5 linked regions of the Homo sapiens genome follow. The protein of the gene in region 4 purifies or fractionates together with the protein of the main gene of each other region. This does not show direct contact. Each region holds a gene or a part of one and is shown on either strand. Other genes may lie near its edges.

Evidence for each region.
Region 1: the proteins of STK40 (region 4) and PPP6R1 purify together in Homo sapiens (affinity purification with mass spectrometry, with the first as the bait; one large-scale study listed by BioGRID). This does not show direct contact.
Region 2: the proteins of STK40 (region 4) and MAPKAPK5 purify together in Homo sapiens (affinity purification with mass spectrometry, with the first as the bait; one large-scale study listed by BioGRID). This does not show direct contact.
Region 3: the proteins of STK40 (region 4) and OBI1 purify together in Homo sapiens (affinity purification with mass spectrometry, with the first as the bait; one large-scale study listed by BioGRID). This does not show direct contact.
Region 5: the proteins of STK40 (region 4) and MAP7 purify together in Homo sapiens (affinity purification with mass spectrometry, with the first as the bait; one large-scale study listed by BioGRID). This does not show direct contact.

The regions. Positions count from the first base shown.
Region 1 is NC_000019.10:55,234,999-55,238,517, forward strand, and holds part of PPP6R1 (serine/threonine-protein phosphatase 6 regulatory subunit 1), read right to left. Parts: intron 1,973-3,519; coding exon 1,915-1,972; intron 1,824-1,914; coding exon 1,645-1,823; intron 1-1,644. UniProt on the Homo sapiens protein: Regulatory subunit of protein phosphatase 6 (PP6). May function as a scaffolding PP6 subunit. Involved in the PP6-mediated dephosphorylation of NFKBIE opposing its degradation in response to TNF-alpha.
Region 2 is NC_000012.12:111,869,717-111,873,235, forward strand, and holds part of MAPKAPK5 (MAP kinase-activated protein kinase 5), read left to right. Parts: intron 1-554; coding exon 555-644; intron 645-1,368; coding exon 1,369-1,464; intron 1,465-3,519. UniProt on the Homo sapiens protein: Tumor suppressor serine/threonine-protein kinase involved in mTORC1 signaling and post-transcriptional regulation. Phosphorylates FOXO3, ERK3/MAPK6, ERK4/MAPK4, HSP27/HSPB1, p53/TP53 and RHEB.
Region 3 is NC_000013.11:78,638,640-78,642,158, reverse strand, and holds part of OBI1 (ORC ubiquitin ligase 1), read left to right. Parts: coding exon 1-37; intron 38-3,087; coding exon 3,088-3,336; intron 3,337-3,519. UniProt on the Homo sapiens protein: E3 ubiquitin ligase essential for DNA replication origin activation during S phase.
Region 4 is NC_000001.11:36,379,414-36,382,932, reverse strand, and holds part of STK40 (serine/threonine-protein kinase 40), read left to right. Parts: intron 1-3,519. UniProt on the Homo sapiens protein: May be a negative regulator of NF-kappa-B and p53-mediated gene transcription.
Region 5 is NC_000006.12:136,368,919-136,372,437, reverse strand, and holds part of MAP7 (ensconsin), read left to right. Parts: intron 1-3,519. UniProt on the Homo sapiens protein: Microtubule-stabilizing protein that may play an important role during reorganization of microtubules during polarization and differentiation of epithelial cells. Associates with microtubules in a dynamic manner.

The sequences.
Region 1 (3,519 bases), on a different chromosome or scaffold from region 4:
GATATCCATTGGCCACACACTCAGGATCTGTATGTACACTTGTCTATACGCATGTTACATGTCAATAAAAAGTGAAAACAGCCTAATTCCGAAATCAAAAGTCATGAGTCAAAAACTCAGTTGCAGATGATGACTTAGTGTTCAGGCTGTCAAATCTACATGGCATGAACCCATTTCATCACAGCGACTCTGGGGCCGGCCAGTATTAAGAGAAAAAAAAAAAACAATGTAACATTTGCACTAAAATGTCATCACAGCCTGATTGGAGAGGGACGTCATCATCTCTCATTTTACTGGAATTAGAGAAGAGAGAAGCTGCCTGGGACCATCTTACCCCCCTTTCTAGGAAAACGTGTGAGAGCTAACACGAGGAAGTGAAGTGAAGGGATGAAGGAAGGAGACAGGGAGGCGGGAAGAGAGAGACACACACAGACCAAGCCATACCTCAGGACCTGCCTATTTTTTCAGCCACAGAGATTATCCCTTTCTTTTCATAACTTAACTCATTTGAATTAGATTCCTTTTTTTTTTTTTTTCTGAGACAGAGTCTCGCTCTGTCGCCCAGGCTGGAGTACAGTGGCGCAATCTTGGCTCACTGCAAGCTCCGCCTTCCGGGTTCACGCCATTCTCCTGCCTCAGCCTCCCAAGTCGCTGGGACCACAGGTGCCCGCCACCACGCCCGGCAAATTTTTTGTATTTTTAGTAGAGACGGGGTTTCACCATGTTAGCCAGGATGGTCTTGATCTCCTGACCTCGTGATCCGCCCGCCTCAGCCTCCCAAAGTGCTGGGATTACAGGCGTGAGCCACCGTGCCCGGCTGATTTTTTTTAATTTGTTGATTCTTTTTTTTTTTTTTTTTTTTGAGACCAGGTCTCTGTCACCCAGACTGGAGTGCAGTGGTGCGATCTCAACTCACTGCAACCTCCGCCCCCCAGGGTAAAGCGATCCTTCCACCTCAGCCTCTCAAGTAGCTGGGACTACAGGCACACGTCACCACATCCAGGTAATTTTTGTAGAGACAGGGTTTCGCTATGTTGCCCAGGCTAGGTCTCAAACTCCTGAGCTCAAGCGATCCATCCACCTTGGCCTCCTCCCGAAGTACTGGGATTACAGGCTTGAGCCACTGTGCCCGGCTAATTTGTTGATTTCTTAATGCATCATCTACCTTTTTTTTTGAGACAAGTCTGGCTCTGTTGCCCAGACTGGAGTGCAGTGGTATGATCTCGGCTCACTGCAACCTCTGCCTCCCTGGCTCAAGCCATCCTCCCACCTCAACCTCCCGAGTAGCCAGGACTACAGGTGCACACCACCATGCCCATCTAACTTTTGTATTTTTTGTAGAGACAGGATCTCCCTATGTTGCCCAGGGCTGGTCTCAAACTCCTGAGCTCAAGCAATCCATCTGCCCTGGCCTCCCAAAGTACTGGGATTACAGGCACTCAGGGATTACATGAGCCCACCATGCTTGGCCTTGAATTAGATTTCTATCACTCAAAAGTGAAAGTGCCCCCAACTAATACACACACCAATGCAGGTTCCTTATTTTCTTCATTCACTTCAGCCTCAGTCCAAATGTGTTGGGGGGACCCCTTGGCCCTGCCGTGTGGTGGAAGCTTGGAGAAGGGAAACTGGAGGGGGACTCACCGGACACCAGGTGGCTGGCCCAGACGGGCCCCCCTGGCCAGCTGGCTGCCCTGCCAGGCGCCATCTTCTCCATCAGACTCCCCTGAGCCCTGGGCCTCTTCCTCGTCCTCCTCTTCCTCATCATCATCAAACTGCTGGATGCGGTCCTTGTAGCATATCTCAAGTAGGTTGGCGTTGGGCTGCAGGGCACAGGGGTGGGAGGATGGGCCACACTGCCCACAGCCCCACACCCCTCCACCCGCCACAACCAGGGGACAGGGCAGTACTCACGTTCTCATCGTCAGCATTGAGGGAGAAGGTGATGTTGGCTGTCTTGTCAAAAGGTGCGCTAGGAGAGAAGGCAAGGCATGGTGAGAAGGTCCACCTGGGGGTGGGGGCAGCACAGGACAGGCCACATTTCTTTCTTCACTCAACACAGAGCTGACCCTCATTACTTGCAGATTTGGTATCTGCAAATTCACACACAACCCGAACCACTGGTCCTAAGGGGCAACGCATACATGAATATCAACATCTCACATATGATCACTTTAAATCCTTAAAACCACTCATTGAGGTAGGCTGTTTCCCTTGGCTCTAGAAGTGAGAAAATGGGGCTCGGAAATGTTAAGCGACTCTCCTCAGGCTCTTCCAAGGACAGGTGCCAGAGAGGGATTCAGATCCATGCCCTTGTCCCCATCCTTGGGGCATCTGTAGGAGGCTGACACTCACACCAGCCAGGCACAAGCAGAATGTGAGACTACAGCCCAATAAAGCACATCCCCTAACCTCAAGATGTCTACGGTCCGCGGCTGAAATTCTAAATTATGGGAAAAAGAATCACGTCAAAACTTAAACTGTGCCTGCCAGGGCCCCACCTCCCTCACCACGAGGGTCTAATGATCAGGGTCCACATTCTGTCCCACGTGTTACGGACAGTTCAAGGGATCATTTGTCTCAAATTCATGAAAAATTCTGCCACAAAGATCAATGGATAAAGGACAGTTAATTCTTAAAGGACACTAAGTATGTGACAGACATTACTCACGCACTTCATTCTCACAACCACCTTCCAAGGCAAGTGTCCTTAGTCCCTCCTAGACACTGAGAAGCAGCGGAGCAGAGACCACGCTGGGCACACAGTGGGTCTAGGGCAGGGCAGCCCATGTCCCCGTGGCACTGGCAGCCTCAGCTGACCTGGCTTCTGCTACAGGAGCTATGCGGGGCAGCATCTTCAGCCTTGAGATGATCAAACCAGTCATCCACTTTCCATTCCGGAAATCTTTCTGGGTTTAGTTTTGTTCACTTAACTTCTTAACCCCTCTGGAATTTTCTTGGTAGAGGAAAAGCTAACAGTTTCATCCCGAAAGGGGCAGCTGGTGACCCCAATGCCATCTACCAGTCAGTCCCTTCATTCTCCTGCCAGGGTGGGGTTTTCTTCTTTTTTTTTTTAATTAAAAAAGCAGAGATGGTCTCACAATGTTGCCCAGGCTGGGCTGAAATTCCTGAACTCAAGCGATCCTCCTGCCTCGGCCTCCCTAAGTGCTGGGATTAAGATGTGAGCCACTGTGTCCAGCCCAGTTTTCACTTGAGCATCTTCTCCAGGGGTCTCGGCACAGGCCACTGACCCACAAAGACCAACGCTCTGCAAGTCTCCATGCTGGGCACAGAAGCAGCCAACACAGGATATCACGTCTGCATCTGAGAGGACCTCTGTCCAGCTGTGGACTAAGCCAGGAACAGCTGACTATCCCTCATCGTGGTGTCCCTTACGCTGTGCTGTACAGGGACCCCGGGGCAGCCATGGGCAGCCATCCAGCTCCCACACACTAACCAGCTATGTCCTGGGGCCTCAGTCTCCCTGGCCGTAAATGAGCTCATCGTGGGGAGCAAGAC
Region 2 (3,519 bases), on a different chromosome or scaffold from region 4:
AGGATGAGCTCTGATAATCTTCTATAAAATAAAACCCCTTCAAATCCACATAAACAGGCAACATTTTCAACAAGCATGATGAGCAAAATGAGTTTCCAGTATGAATTGGAAAAACCCAGTCAGCTGATTTCTTGACCCTCAGCTCCCTGGAGAGTGCCATTCTTGTCTGAGCCCTGCTGTGGGAACTGCGCCTGCTGACCATTGCTCAGCTTAGGTGTTTCTTCTGCAGTGTCTGTCATACCTCAGATGAATGAAAGTGGGAGCATTTCATTTTTCCCATTTCTTACAGGATTTACCCATCAGTTTATTCTGACAAAGAATTGCTGTACCATCATATTTTTCTTTCTGTCTGACAAAATACAAGTTGCAGTTAAACTAAGCTTAATCCATTCTGTTTCTTGGTATTCCAAGTTTTTCTTAATTTCTGCTTTAAAATTGAAAGTGAACGCAGTCTTAATGAAGGCTTGTTTTTTGACATCCTGAGTTCTCTACGCCAGGTGTATTAAAGAGTGGTCTTTTCTAAGAAGCGACTGTTTCATTGTGTCTTTTTTCAGATAGCTTTGGCTCTGCGGCACTGTCACTTGTTAAACATTGCGCACAGAGACCTCAAGCCTGAAAATCTGCTTTTTAAGGATAACTCTTTGGTGAGAAGACTGTTTTTCTGCATTTTAGTGCTGCAACTCTTAACATAGTTCAGGAGTGGGTGTGTTTGGAGCGCTCTGAATTCATGGTGAAAAAGCTTTAAGCCAAAGTGCTTCAAACAGCTTATTTCTTCAACTCGTTCCCTTGCTAGAGGCTCAGAGAAGCTGTACTACTGTACTCCCGGCATTGATAATTTTGGATGATACTGATATGTATTTGTGGGACTTAATGATTTTGGATATTATTTGGAGGACCTTTGGGAAGGGGCAGGAATCTGTATGCTGTTATATATTATCTCGTTTCATTTGCTGTTTTCCCTTTCAGCTCTGTCCCCTGCCCCATGTCTCACCAGATAAGTTGCTCTGTCTATCATGAAGCTTATGGCAGATATTAAAAGTGAAGTAGCATCCCAGATTGATGAGAGGTGATGGGCTTATAGAGTGAAGGGTCCCTAGGCCAAGACCTTGACGTTAGTGCTGCCCTTACAAGTTCTAAAGCAAAAATAGCTGTGTGAGTGGGTAGGAATTCCTTACTTCTGCATTACTAAGGACAGTTCCTCAGTGTGAATCATTGTCTCCAGACCTGGGGACATGTTATTTTCATAAGTTCGCATCTCAGCTGGAAAGAAACTTGTTAGATCTCAGGGTAACATGTCTTACACCTGGATTTTCCTTTAATGTTTACTGAGCACTCTGGAGCAGTGACTCCTTTTTTTTTTAATTTCAGGATGCCCCAGTGAAGTTGTGTGACTTTGGATTTGCCAAGATTGACCAAGGTGACTTGATGACACCCCAGTTCACCCCTTATTATGTAGCACCCCAGGTAAGCATGTGCGGTTTCTGTCCTAAGATCTGTCACCAAGCTGCCCATCAACTCGTGTTCCTTCTATTCTACAGCACAAGTAGGCATATATTACAGATGGGAGGGGGAGAACTTAGCTTTAGAAACCTACAGATTGCTTTATTTGGTGTAGATCTTTTATTCTTTTAAAATCAACTTTAGCCAGGTGCGGTGGCTCACGCCTTTAATCCCAGCACTTTGGGAGGCTGAGGCGGGTGGATTACAAGTTCAGGAGATGGAGACCATCCTGGATAACACGGTGAAACCCTGTCTCTACTAAAAAAAATATAAAAAATTAGCCGAGTGTGGTGGCGCACACCTGTAATTCGTGCTACTCAGGAGGCTGAGGCAGGAGAATCGCTTGAACCTGGGAAGTGGAGGTTGCAAGGAGCCGAGATGGCACCACTGCACTCTAGCTTGGGCGACAGAGCGAGACTCCGTCTCAAAAAAAAATAAATAAAATAAAATAAACTTTATTGAGGTATGATTTAGAAGTATGATTTACATACAGTAAAATACCTCCACTTCAAGGAGAGTTTGATGAGTTGTGACAAATATATACCCCATATGGCGACCACCACATTGAAGATGTGGAACACGCCCCTCACTTCACAAGCTGCCTGTGCCACTTTGCAGTCAGTCCCCTCCCAACTTAACCCCTGGCCCTAGGCAACCACTGACATGCTTTCTGTCATTATTGGTTAGTTTTGCCTGTTGAAGAATTTCAGAAAAATGTAATCGTGGACTTTGTATGCTTCATTTCTTTTGCTTAGCATGTTTTTGAGATTTGTCCATGTTCCTGCATTTATCACTCGTTAATTCCTTTTCATTGCCAAGTAGTATTTCATTATATACCTAAGCTGCATTTGTTTTTTCCATTCACTGACAGGATTTTGGGTTGTTTCTCATTTTTGGCTATTATGAAGAAAGCTGCTAGGAACACTTCTTTTACAGTTTTTGGGGGACATGTTCCCCCATGCCCATATCTTTTTTCCAAAATGGCTATACCATTTTATGCGTCTACCAGCAACGTATAGAGTTCCAGTCATTTCACATTTTTACTAACGCCTCATGCTTGTTGCTTGTCAGCATTTGTCATCTTAGTCATTCTGGTAGCGGGCAGAGTATTACTTCATTATAGTTTTAATCACGACATTGTCCTGATGGCCACTATTTTGGAGCACTTTTTGTACATGTGTATTGGCCATTCTGTTGTAAGTATGGGCATTCATCTTTTGCCATTTTGTTATTGTTGGTTTCTTGTTAAAGAATTGAGGTATAAGAATTTTAAAATATTCTGGACACAGGTTCTTTGCCATATGTATGTTGTATTCTTACTGCTGCTGTAACATATTGTCACAAACTTAGTAGATAAAAACAACAGAAATGTATTATCTTATACTTCTGGAAATGAGAAGTCTGAAATGGTACTCAGTGCTATAATCAAGGTGTCAGCAGGGCTGTGTTCCTTCTGGAGGCATTTCTTGCCTTTTCCAGCTTCTAGAGGCTGCCTACATTATTTGGCTTGTAGCCTCTTCCTTCATCATCAGAGCCAGTAGCATAGCATCTTCCAATGAGTGTCTCTCTCTATGACTTTGACCCTCTTGCCTGCCTCTTATAAGGACCCTACTGATCACATTGGCCTTACCTAGATAACTCCCCATTTTAAGATTCTTAACTTAATTGTTCTGCAATACAAGGTAAAATAATCCCAGGGATTATAACATGGACATCTTGGGGGGCCATTATTCTGCCTTCCATATATATATCATGAATATTCATCTCAGTCTGTGACTTGCCTTTTAATTTTCTTAATGGCCTTTGAATAGCAGAAGTTTTGAATTTTAATGAAGTCTGTTTCACCATTTTTTTTTTAATGCTTAGTACTTTTTGTTCCTAAGATCCACAAGCATAAATATTTTCTCTGATGTTTTCTTATAAGAGGTTATAGCTTTAGCTTTTACATTTGGGTCTGTAATTCATCTGAGTTTGTGTGTGTATGAAATGAGAGACCAGGTTCTTTTTTTCCCCCTTAAG
Region 3 (3,519 bases), on a different chromosome or scaffold from region 4:
GAAAACTAGACTTGAATTACTACACAAAGAATATGAGGTAAACAGTAATCAAAGTTTAAAATTATGTTAGCAGTGAATTCAAGGTAAAAACTGACCTACCTCAGTCCCCAGACTTCTTAGAGTAAATATCCAATGAAATTTTATTTTAAAAGCCTATAAAAAGAAATTGTTTGATAAATTCTTTTTTCTTTTTTCCTTTCGTATTTTAAATAGAGGAAAGAGATTTTTTGTTTTATTTTTTTTCTTTAAGTACCAAGGAATGGGGGAATGGGATTCCAGAAAAAAGGAACAGATGGAAGCATTTCTTTCTTTTTTTTTTTTTTTTAAGTTAAAATTTGTACCTCCACAGACATATCATTTTGTATTTGCTTCCTCAAGAAGTTGGGAGAAAAAGGAAATCTCCTTGTGAAAGCCAGTCTGACCTCTGCAGTCATCAGTTGCTTCTGCCTATGAAGTTACTGATGATTATAAGCCTGATCAATTCTAGTAAAGTAAATACTATACCTTATGTCAACTGCCAGCACAGAGATTTTAGTGTGAAACATGCTGTTTCCTAATTATTGTCTAAAGGTGAATGAACAGGATGATTGGACATGGTGATGCTATTTTTACAAATAAATTCATGCTAATAGAATACATACACTTTTGAATAGTACACATTAAGCCCAGTTGTCATTTTATGTTGACTGAAGAAGGAGATATCGATCCCCTCTTGACTCAAAATATCTTTCAGTTTAACTGTGTACATGGAAGGTGCCTCAACTGCCTCAAAAATTTTTGGAATGCAGTGGGGTATAAATACATGATTGAATATATGTTTATTCATATATGTGTTCCTTACATATATGAATTTGCTTGTTTTATGAAAATGCTATTTAAGTTGAAATGTATTGCAATTTAAAATAGTAAGTAGTACTATCTGTGTGACATTTAATGCTAAAATGTATTTTTATATAATGAATATTTATCATACTCAGATGGTAAACAAATTAATCCTTTGGGAGATCACTTGAGCTACTTGGGGGTTTATTTTCTAGCAGAATTTTTAACAACCTCAATTTAAGGTGACATATTTATTATAGATGAATAAATGGCATCATAGTAAGAAGTTCTAACCCAAATGTTTAGTGACTGGTTTTAGGATAATAAACATTTCCAGAGTGGGAAGGCTAATACTTGCAATAGTCACAGTAGTAATTGAAGAACCAGAATCCAGAAAAGTTGAAAATTCAAAATTAACTACAGATATTATTCTGGAATGAAAAGTAGAAGGAAATGGTAGATGGTTTCACTCATACTTCAAATATAGAAGTGAAAGTATAAATATCAAAACCCTAACAATCCTCTTTTTCTTTTTTGAGACAGAATCTCATTCTGTCACCCAGGCTGGAGTGCAGATGGCATGATCTCGGCTCACTGCAACCTCCGCCTCCTGGGTTCAAGCAATTCTCCTGCCTCAGCCTCTCAAGTAGCTGGGACTGCCGGTGCCTGCCACCACACTCAGCTAATTTTTTGTATTTTTAGTAGAGGCGAGGTTTCATCATGTTGGCCAGGCTAGTCTTGAACTCCTGACCTCAGCTGGCCCACCTGCCTTGGCCTCCCGAAGTGCTGGGATTACAGGCACGATCATCTTGATAACTCTGTACAGTCAGCCCACCATATCCAAGGATTCATCATCTGTGGATTCAAACAACCAAGATTGAAAATTAAAAAAATAAATATATATAAAAATAATGTAGTTTAATAACTATTTGTATGACATTTACTTTGTATTGGTTATTATAAATAATCTAGAGATGACTTAAAATGTATGGAAAGATGTATGTAGGTTATATGCAAATACAGCACTAGTGATTTTCCATCAGGAACTTGAACATCCATGGATTTTGGTATCCCTAAGGGTCCTAGAACCAATCCCCTGTAGATGTGGGGATGAGGTGGGGACAAACTGTACCTTTTTTTTTTTTAACCCGGCCCCCCTCAATGTACTTTCAAATTCCCCTCAGTAAAGCAGTTGAGTATGCCTCAAGTTTTTTGTTTTTTTGTTCTTTTTTGAAATGGAATCTACTTCCCTGTTGGAATTCATGTGACTTTTCTTATTTTCTGGATGATATCTTTTTTTTGTTTGTTTGTTTTGTTTTGTTTTTGTTTTTGTTTTTGTTTTTAATTATACTTTAAGTTTTAGGGTACATGTGCACATTGTGCAGGTTAGTTACCTATGTATACATGTGCCATGCTGGTGCGCTGCACCCACTAACTCGTCATCTAGCATTAGGTATATCTCCCAGTGCTATCCCTCCCCCCTCCCCCCACCCCACAACAGTCCCCAGAGTGTGATATTCCCCTTCCTGTGTCCATGTGATCTCATTGTTCAATTCCCACCTATGAATGAGAATATGCGGTGTTTGGTTTTTTGTTCTTGCGATAGTTTACTGAGAATGTTGATTTCCAATTTCATCCATGTCCCTACAAAGGACATGAACTCATCATTTTTTATGGCTGCATAGTATTCCATGGTGTATATGTGCCACATTTTCTTAATCCAGTCTATCATTGTTGGACATTTGGGTTGGTTCCAAGTCTTTGCTATTGTGAATAATGCCGCAATAAACATACGTGTGCATGTGTCTTTATAGCAGCATGATTTATAGTCCTTTGGGTATATACCCAGTAATGGGATGGCTGGGTCAAATGGTATTCCTAGTTCTAGATCCCTGAGGAATCGCCACACTGACTTCCACGATGGTTGAACTAGTTTACAGTCCCACCAACAGTGTAAAAGTGTTCCTATTTCTCCACCTGGATGATATCTTAAATAGAATCAAAGATTTGGCATTTTTAAAAATCACAACTAACATTGAATTAAAATGAAGGCAACATAAATCCCAATTTTTATCAGTCAGGCCACATTTTGAGAATTTAAACTGTATGTGACTTTCTCCCTGCAAAACTCTTTTGATATGTAAAGAATCTATGTATCTACAGAATTTTAAGTACAAAATTCAAACCATGTTGGCTTCAGTTTAGCATATGTATGTATGTGTTTAGTGTCTATGCCTGCCTCATGACTATGCAATGCTTTTTCAGGACGAAATAGATTGTTTACAGAAAGAAGTAGAAGAGCTTAAGAGTAAAAATCTCAGCTTGGAGTCACAGATCAAAACTATTCTGGATCCTTTAACCTTGGTGCAGGGCAACCAAAATGAAGACAAACATCTAGTCACAGATAATCCAAGTAAAATTAACCCAGAAACTGTAGCAGAGTGGAAGAAAAAACTCAGAACAGCTAATGAAATCTATGAAAAAGTGAAAGATGATGTGGATAAGCTAAAGGAGGTAAGTTGTGGTTTTTAAAAATCTATTATGGTTGTTTTTAAAATAAGTACCTTCAAAAGCATAAATAGCCATATTATCTTGACTCATCATCAGATGATTTGTGAGGAAAGGACAGAATCTCTGGATGAGCATTTATATGCAATAAGAAGACTTTTTCTTATTTAAATATCATTAACTGCCAAG
Region 4 (3,519 bases):
AGATCTGTGTTCTACTTCTATCCCTGCTGGTCACTAGGGATTACTTATTCTCTCCACCACAGCTTTCTCATCTGTAAAATGGGGACAATAAGAGTACCTTCGTAATAGGGCAGTTGTGAGGAGTAAGTAAGATGTTACAGGATGAGTACTTAACAGACACTGAGTAGTAAATGTTAGCTCTTATTACAGGCTACAGGAAAGAACTTTTAGGAATTAGTTGCAGCAATTCATGGCAACTAGAACTATGTCCCATTGAGCTGTCAGAAGTGTCCTGAGGGATCACAAGATCACAGAGTTTTATTTTATTCTTTCTGAAAAGAAAATCTAAGGGGAGTTTACCCAGTCTGTATGGGAGCCATGCAGATGATTCAGTTTGGCTCTTTAAAAGAACTATTTTTAAAAATAGAAGTAGGACTGCTGAGAAAAAAATAGTACTTTAAAGTATACATGGGTTGGCCAGGCGCGGTGGCTAACGCCTGTAATCCCTGCACTTTGGGAGGCCGAGATGGGCAGATCGCTTGAGCCTAGGAGTTCAAGACCAGTCTGGGCAACATGGCGAAACCCGTCTCTACAAAAAATACAAAAATTAGCTGGGCATGGTCATACGCACCTGTAGTCCCAGCTACTAGGGAGGCTGAGGTGGAAGGATCTCTTGAGCCCAGGAGATCAAGGGTGCAGTGAGCCGAGATTGCACCACTGCATTCCAGTTTAGGTGACACAGTGAGACCCTGTCTCAAAAAAAAAAAAGTATACATGGGAGTAAATGTATTTAGAATTTCTTCTCTGTGTGTCCCTGCTAGCAACCCTAGTCTGGTACCTGAATAAGCAGCATCAAGAGGCATCACACACACTGATGAGTGTGGTAGCTCAAAATACAGAGCCCTGATTCCACATACATGAGCTCCCATGTGTGGCTGGGGCTCTGCTGGGTCCTGGGGGCAGGAGGAGGATGGAGAGGCAGGCCCTACCATGGAGGAGGTTGTGATCTAGGGGCAGGCTCCTAACCAGTTAACATGTGCACAGTTTGGCAAGTCTCTCACAGAAGTCTATAGCATGTGGGGGAACCCAGTGGAAGAAGTGATCGAGCTCTAGGATGAGGAGGAGACTGGGGAGAACTTCAGAGAGCCCTTAGAACTTGAACTGGGACTGGGCACAGCAGCTCACACCTGTAATCCCAACACTTTGGGAGGCCGAGGCAGGAGGATCGCTTGAGCCCAGAAATTGAAGACCAGCCTGGCCAACATAGTGGGACCCCATCTCTACAAAAATTAAAAAAGAAAAAAATTAGTTAAGCGTGGTGGCATGTACCTGTAGTTCCAGCTACTTGGAAGGCTGAAGTGGGAGGATCACTTGAACCTGGGAGTTCCCAACTCCCAGTAAGCTGTAATCACACCACTGCACTCGAGCCTGGACAACAGAGTGAGACCCTGTCTCAAAAAAAGAACTTGAATTGGATCGTGAAGAATGAATAGAGTTTTCTGGGGGTCTATGAAGCCCTCCAGGCAGGGGGAGCAGCCTGGCACAAGCACGGATATGTGGTAATTTGTGTGGCACTTTAGGAACCACAGGAGTTCTAGCCCAGAGTGTGAAGGGACTGACTGCAGGATGTGCCTGAGAGGTAGGCAGGCACTAGGGCGCAGATGCTTGAATTTTGTATTCTGTTGGTGATGGATGCCTTGCATTAAGTGGAGGAAACATACCATTAGACCTGCATCTGCTTTGGAGGATGGAGTGGGTTGGGGAGAGGTTGGAGTCCCCATAGGAGGCTGTTGCAGTAATCCCAGCAAGGGCTGAGAGGGGCTTGGATCAGGGCAGAGGCAATAGGGTTGAGAAGAAGAGCAGAGATGAGCTGTTTGGGGGGAAATCAACTGGACTCTGGGAGTGTTTGGAAGTGATGCCAGAGGGAGGAGGAATGGTGACAGGTAACCTTGAGGTCCTTGGTTTGGGTGACAGAGTGAATGATAGTGCAGAGATAGGGATGGCTCAAGGAGAAGATAATGGCCAGTGAAATCTGCCAGCTTCGTTCAGTAAACCCTGGGCACACCCTCTCGGGAGAGGATCAGTTGGAAGGTCTTGTAGACCCCTGTCTGGACTTGGGCCAGGCTTCCCTTTGCTTTCGCCTGAATCAGCACCTGGGAGAAGGGCAGCTTTCCTTCCTTCACCTTTCCTCTGCCCAGATTTAACCAGGGAGGTGAACCTCTTCATGTTTCACATCTATAAAGCGATAAATCTTCAGCCTTCCAATAGCCCTAAGAGCAACCCTTCCCTCTGGCAATATCCACCCCGATTCAGCATACTACAGCCCACTGATGGGGTCCTGAACAGCAGAGACCCTCAGGGGAGAGAGGCTTTCTCAGTGCCCCCTGGAGATCTTATCTAGAGAGAGGTCTGGAAATTGGATTTGCTGCCTGAAGCTGGCTCAGCAGATTCAGTCCTTCTTCTCAGGAAGGACTGATATCTGCCAGAGGCCACCCAGGACTTGCTCAGAACCTTCAGGGAAGGGAGAGAAAGCTGCCCAGTGTCCTTGACCCTTGAAGTTCTAAGGGAGCCAGAAGCTGTCCCTCAGCTGGATTGGACTATAGTGAGGGGTGTGCTGGTGGGCGGGCCTTCAAACAGGCCCTTTGGAATTTGGGAGATTTTTTTACATGATTTGTCCTTGGGTTTGTGGTGTAAAGAAAGTAAACGAGAAAATGATCTGAAACAAGAGCACTTCTTTCTCCTCCACCTGCTCAGGTGAGACTCTGACCTCGAAGGTAGTCGAGGGCCCACAGCAGCCCCCGCATATCCTCCCAGGCTCTGTAATCAAGATCCTAGAGGGGAAAGGATGCAATTGCTTGCTGTGATTTACTTACTATCTTAGAGATAGTTCCACTTTGGCACATGCAGGTCTGGGTCATTTGTGGCTATGATGTGTCCCACTGTGAGTGTAATTTATTCAACAAGCTCTCTGCTAACAAACACTTGGGTTATTTTCTGCATTCTACTCTCTAAACACTTCTGCTGAAGTGACTTTCTTCATACATATGATTTTGCCCACCTTAGGTATCATCTGCAGGATAAATTTCTAGAAGTGAATTGCTGCCTCAAAGACTATCCTTTATTATTATTATTGTTAAAGAATTTCTAGGTCTCCTTTTAATAAATTGGGGCAGCCTTATTTTTCCCCCAGCAAGTGAATCTGTTCTTTTGGGTTGAGGTCGTACGTCCTGAGGGGAACACAGGTGTTCCCACTCCCTAAAGAGGCTACAACCCAGGCCGGGCGCGGTGGCTCACACCTGTAATCCCAGCACTTTAGGAGGCCGAGGCAGGCAGATCACGAGGTCAGGAGATCAAGACCATCCTGGCTAACACGGTAAAACCCTGTATCTACTAAAAATACAAAAAATTAGCCGGACGTGGTGGTGGGCACCTGTAGTCCCAGCTACTCGGGAGGCTGAGGCAGGGAATGGCGTGAACCCAGGAGGCGGAGCTTGCAGTGACTGCCCTCCAGCCTGGGTGAGAGAGCGAGACTCCGTTTCA
Region 5 (3,519 bases), on a different chromosome or scaffold from region 4:
ACATGACCCTGAGCTGTGGTGTGGGCGTAAGAGGGGGAGACCGTGACATCCACCATCCCATCTTTCCCATTGATCATGAATCTGGCTAGCTGGGCAGTAGTGTCCCCTCACTTCCTCTTCACTTGGGGATTTTGCTCTCCCTAAACATTTGAATTTGAAGATGAAAGCTGTTCTTTGTTCAAGCATGTATGAGTGGACGCCCTACCCTCCTGGAGCGTCCATACACATAAGTACAATGCCAGAATACTTTCATTTTTGAAAGTAGGAAAACCAAATGGCCTTTGAAGGGGAAGTGGGCTTGGACTGCTGCCTTGGCATTTTATTTCAACCATATCCAGAAGCTGGCTGAACTCTAAATGTGGTTCACTCAAAAGCAAGATAAAGAATTTTTATCCTGCTTGGCTAATCCCTGTCAAGGCCCTGTCAAGGGATCTTAAAATTTAGTCAAAAAAGTATTTTGAAAACATTAGTCATTTGCTATATCACTAATTCGTAAAAGGCTGTTAGGCTGTGCTATAAATTCTGATTTTGTAAGTGAAAAATATAATTTGTACTTATTATTACGGGCTGAGGTAATGTTAATTTTCACCATGCTATAAATGCAATGAGGTAATTTGTATGTCTCCAGGAATCTTCTTCTTTGTTTTAAATCTTGTGTTTATTTGGTGTCAGTTGAAAGATATAAACCTTGTTCTGTGGTCTTTAGACATTGTACTTTAGTCTTAAAGGACTCACCAGTGAACTAGAAGATCTCATTGCCTCTCTCCAGGATAACAGTATGACCCTTTTGATGAAAGGCTGAAACAGTTTCTTAAAATCGTAACTTCCCAGAGCAATTCAGATTTATAAACCTGATGGACACTTAAAAGGATTTTGCTTAAAGGATAATTCAGGGTTGTGAGAGCTTGATGGCTTTGCCTACAGCCTGTTTTTCTTTCAAGCTCCATCGGCCTTTCTGGAATCAGTGTTTGATTCATGATTGAGTCAGGCCTCCAACCCTCTAAGCCACAGGTGAAACAATCTTTGATGTCTGGAAAGTTTTAATTTATTAGAGTGTTGGTGTTTCAGAGATCCTCCTTAGCTGTAGACAGAAAGCCGTAGTTAAACAGAACAGGTTGGCCCCAAAGTTGGGTACTCACTGGGCAGGGGAAAAGAGCATTTACCATGGAAAAACTATCTTGTTCTGGGTAAAAACAAAAATTAACACTCCTTGAGAGAAGGTTGAGGGCCACCTGTGGCTGACAGGTTAAATGAGAGATTTGTCATCACATGATCCAGAGCCTTGTTTTGTTTTGTTTTTATTACCTTCCTCTTTCTCTATTTAATCACATAGCTGTCTTTTTACCTCTTTACAACCAAGTATTTAGGCAAATACTAACAGAAAACGACTCAGAGTCATTTATACCCTGGAGCTGCACTGTGGAATTCAGTAGTGACTGGCCACAGTGAGCACTTGGAAAGTGGCTACTGAAACTGACAAGCTAAATTTTAAGTTTTTAAAAAATATTTAGTTGTGTTAAAAAAAAAAAAAAGCATGTAACGTAAAATTTACCATTTTAATCATTCTAAAGTTCAGCAGTGTTAAGTATATTCATATTGAAGTGCAACCAATGTCCAGAACTTTTTAAGTCCTGCAAAACTCAAACTCTATACCCATTAAACAACTCCCCATTTCCCCCTCCCCCCAGGCCCTGGCAGCCACTGTTTTAATTTCTGTTCCTATGAATTTAGCTACTTTATAGACCACATAAAAGTGAAATCATGCAGTGTTTGAATTTTTGTGCCTGGCTTATTTCACTTAGCATAATGTCCTCAAGGTTCATTCTTATTATAGCATATGTCAGAATTTCCTTCCTTTTTAGGGCTGAATTATATTCCATTATATTTGTATACCACATTTTGTTTATCAGTTCATGTGTTGGTGAACATTTGGGTTGCTTTCACCTCGTGGCTATTGTGAATAACGCTGCTATGAACATGGGAATATAGATATCTCTAGAGATTGTTCTTTCAATTTCACTTGATATATAGGGATTGCTGGATCATATAGTAATCCTATTTTCAATTTTTTGAGGAGCCTCCATGCCATTTTCCACAGCAGCTGTACCATTTTACATTCCCACTAACAGTGCACAAAGATTTCTGTATCTCCACATTCTCGCCAACAATCGTGATCTTGTTTTTTGATAACAGCCACCTTAAGGAATGTGAGGTGATGTCTTGTAGTTTTGGTTTGCATTTCTTTAATGATCAGTGATGGTGAACATATTTTCATATGCTTGTTGGCTTTTCATGTGTCATCGTTAGAAAAATGGCAATTCCAGTCTTTGCTCACTTTTTAATGGGGTTATTTTGTTTTTGTTGAATTGTAGAGTTATTTATATATTCTAGTAGTAACCCCTTATTAAATATATGACTTACAGATACTTTCTTCTATTCCATAGGTTGCCTTTTTACTCTACTGATTGTTTCCTTTGATATATAGAAGTGTTTAAGTTTGATGTTGTCCCATTTGTTTATTGTTAATTTATTGACACTTTATTGCCTACGCTTTTAGTGTTATATCCAAGAAATCAGTACCAAACACAGTGTCATGAAGCTTTTCACTTATGTTTTCTTCTAGAGGTTTTATAGTGTTAAGTCTTACATTTAAGTCTTTAATCCATTTTGAGTTAACTTTTGTATATTTTAGAAGGTAAGAGTCCAACTTCATTCTTTTGCATTTGGATATCCAGTTTTCCCTGCATCATTTGTTGAAGAGAATGTCCTTGTTTCATTGAGTGGTGTTAGCTTTTGACCATATACACAAGGGTTTGTTTCTGGGCTCTGGATTCTATTCCATTGGTCTATATATCTTTTTTTTTTTTGAGACAGTCTCACTCTGTCACCCATGCTGGAGTACAATGGCACAATCTCAGCTCACTGCAACCTCTGCCTCCCAGGCTCAAGCAATTCTCATGTCCAGCCTTCTGAGTAGCTGGGAATACAGGCATGTGCTACCACGCCCATCTAATTTTTGTATTTTTAGTAGAGAGAGGGTTTCGCCATGTAGGCCAGGCTGGTCTTGAACTCCTGACCTCAAGCGATCCACCCATCTCGGCCTCCCCAAATGCTGGGATTGCAGACATGAGTCGTAGTGCCCAGCCCCATATATCTATATCTGTCTTGATACCATTACCACACAGTACTGATCACTGTAGCTTTTCACCAATTGAGTATCTCTAATTCAAAAATACAGAATGCTCCAAAATGTGAAACTTTTTGAATACCAACATGACACTCAAAGGAGATGCTCATTGGAGCATTTCACATTTCCAGTTATATGGATTAAGGCTGCTAAAGCAGTAAGTGTTAATGCAAGTATTCCAGAATCTGAAATCTGCACACTGTAATCCCAATCATTTTGGATAAGGGATACTCAACCTGTAATATGTTGTGAAATCAGGAAATGTAAGAATTCCAACTTTGTTCTTTTTCAAGATTATTTTGGTTCTTCAGGATCCTTTGAAATTTTCTGTG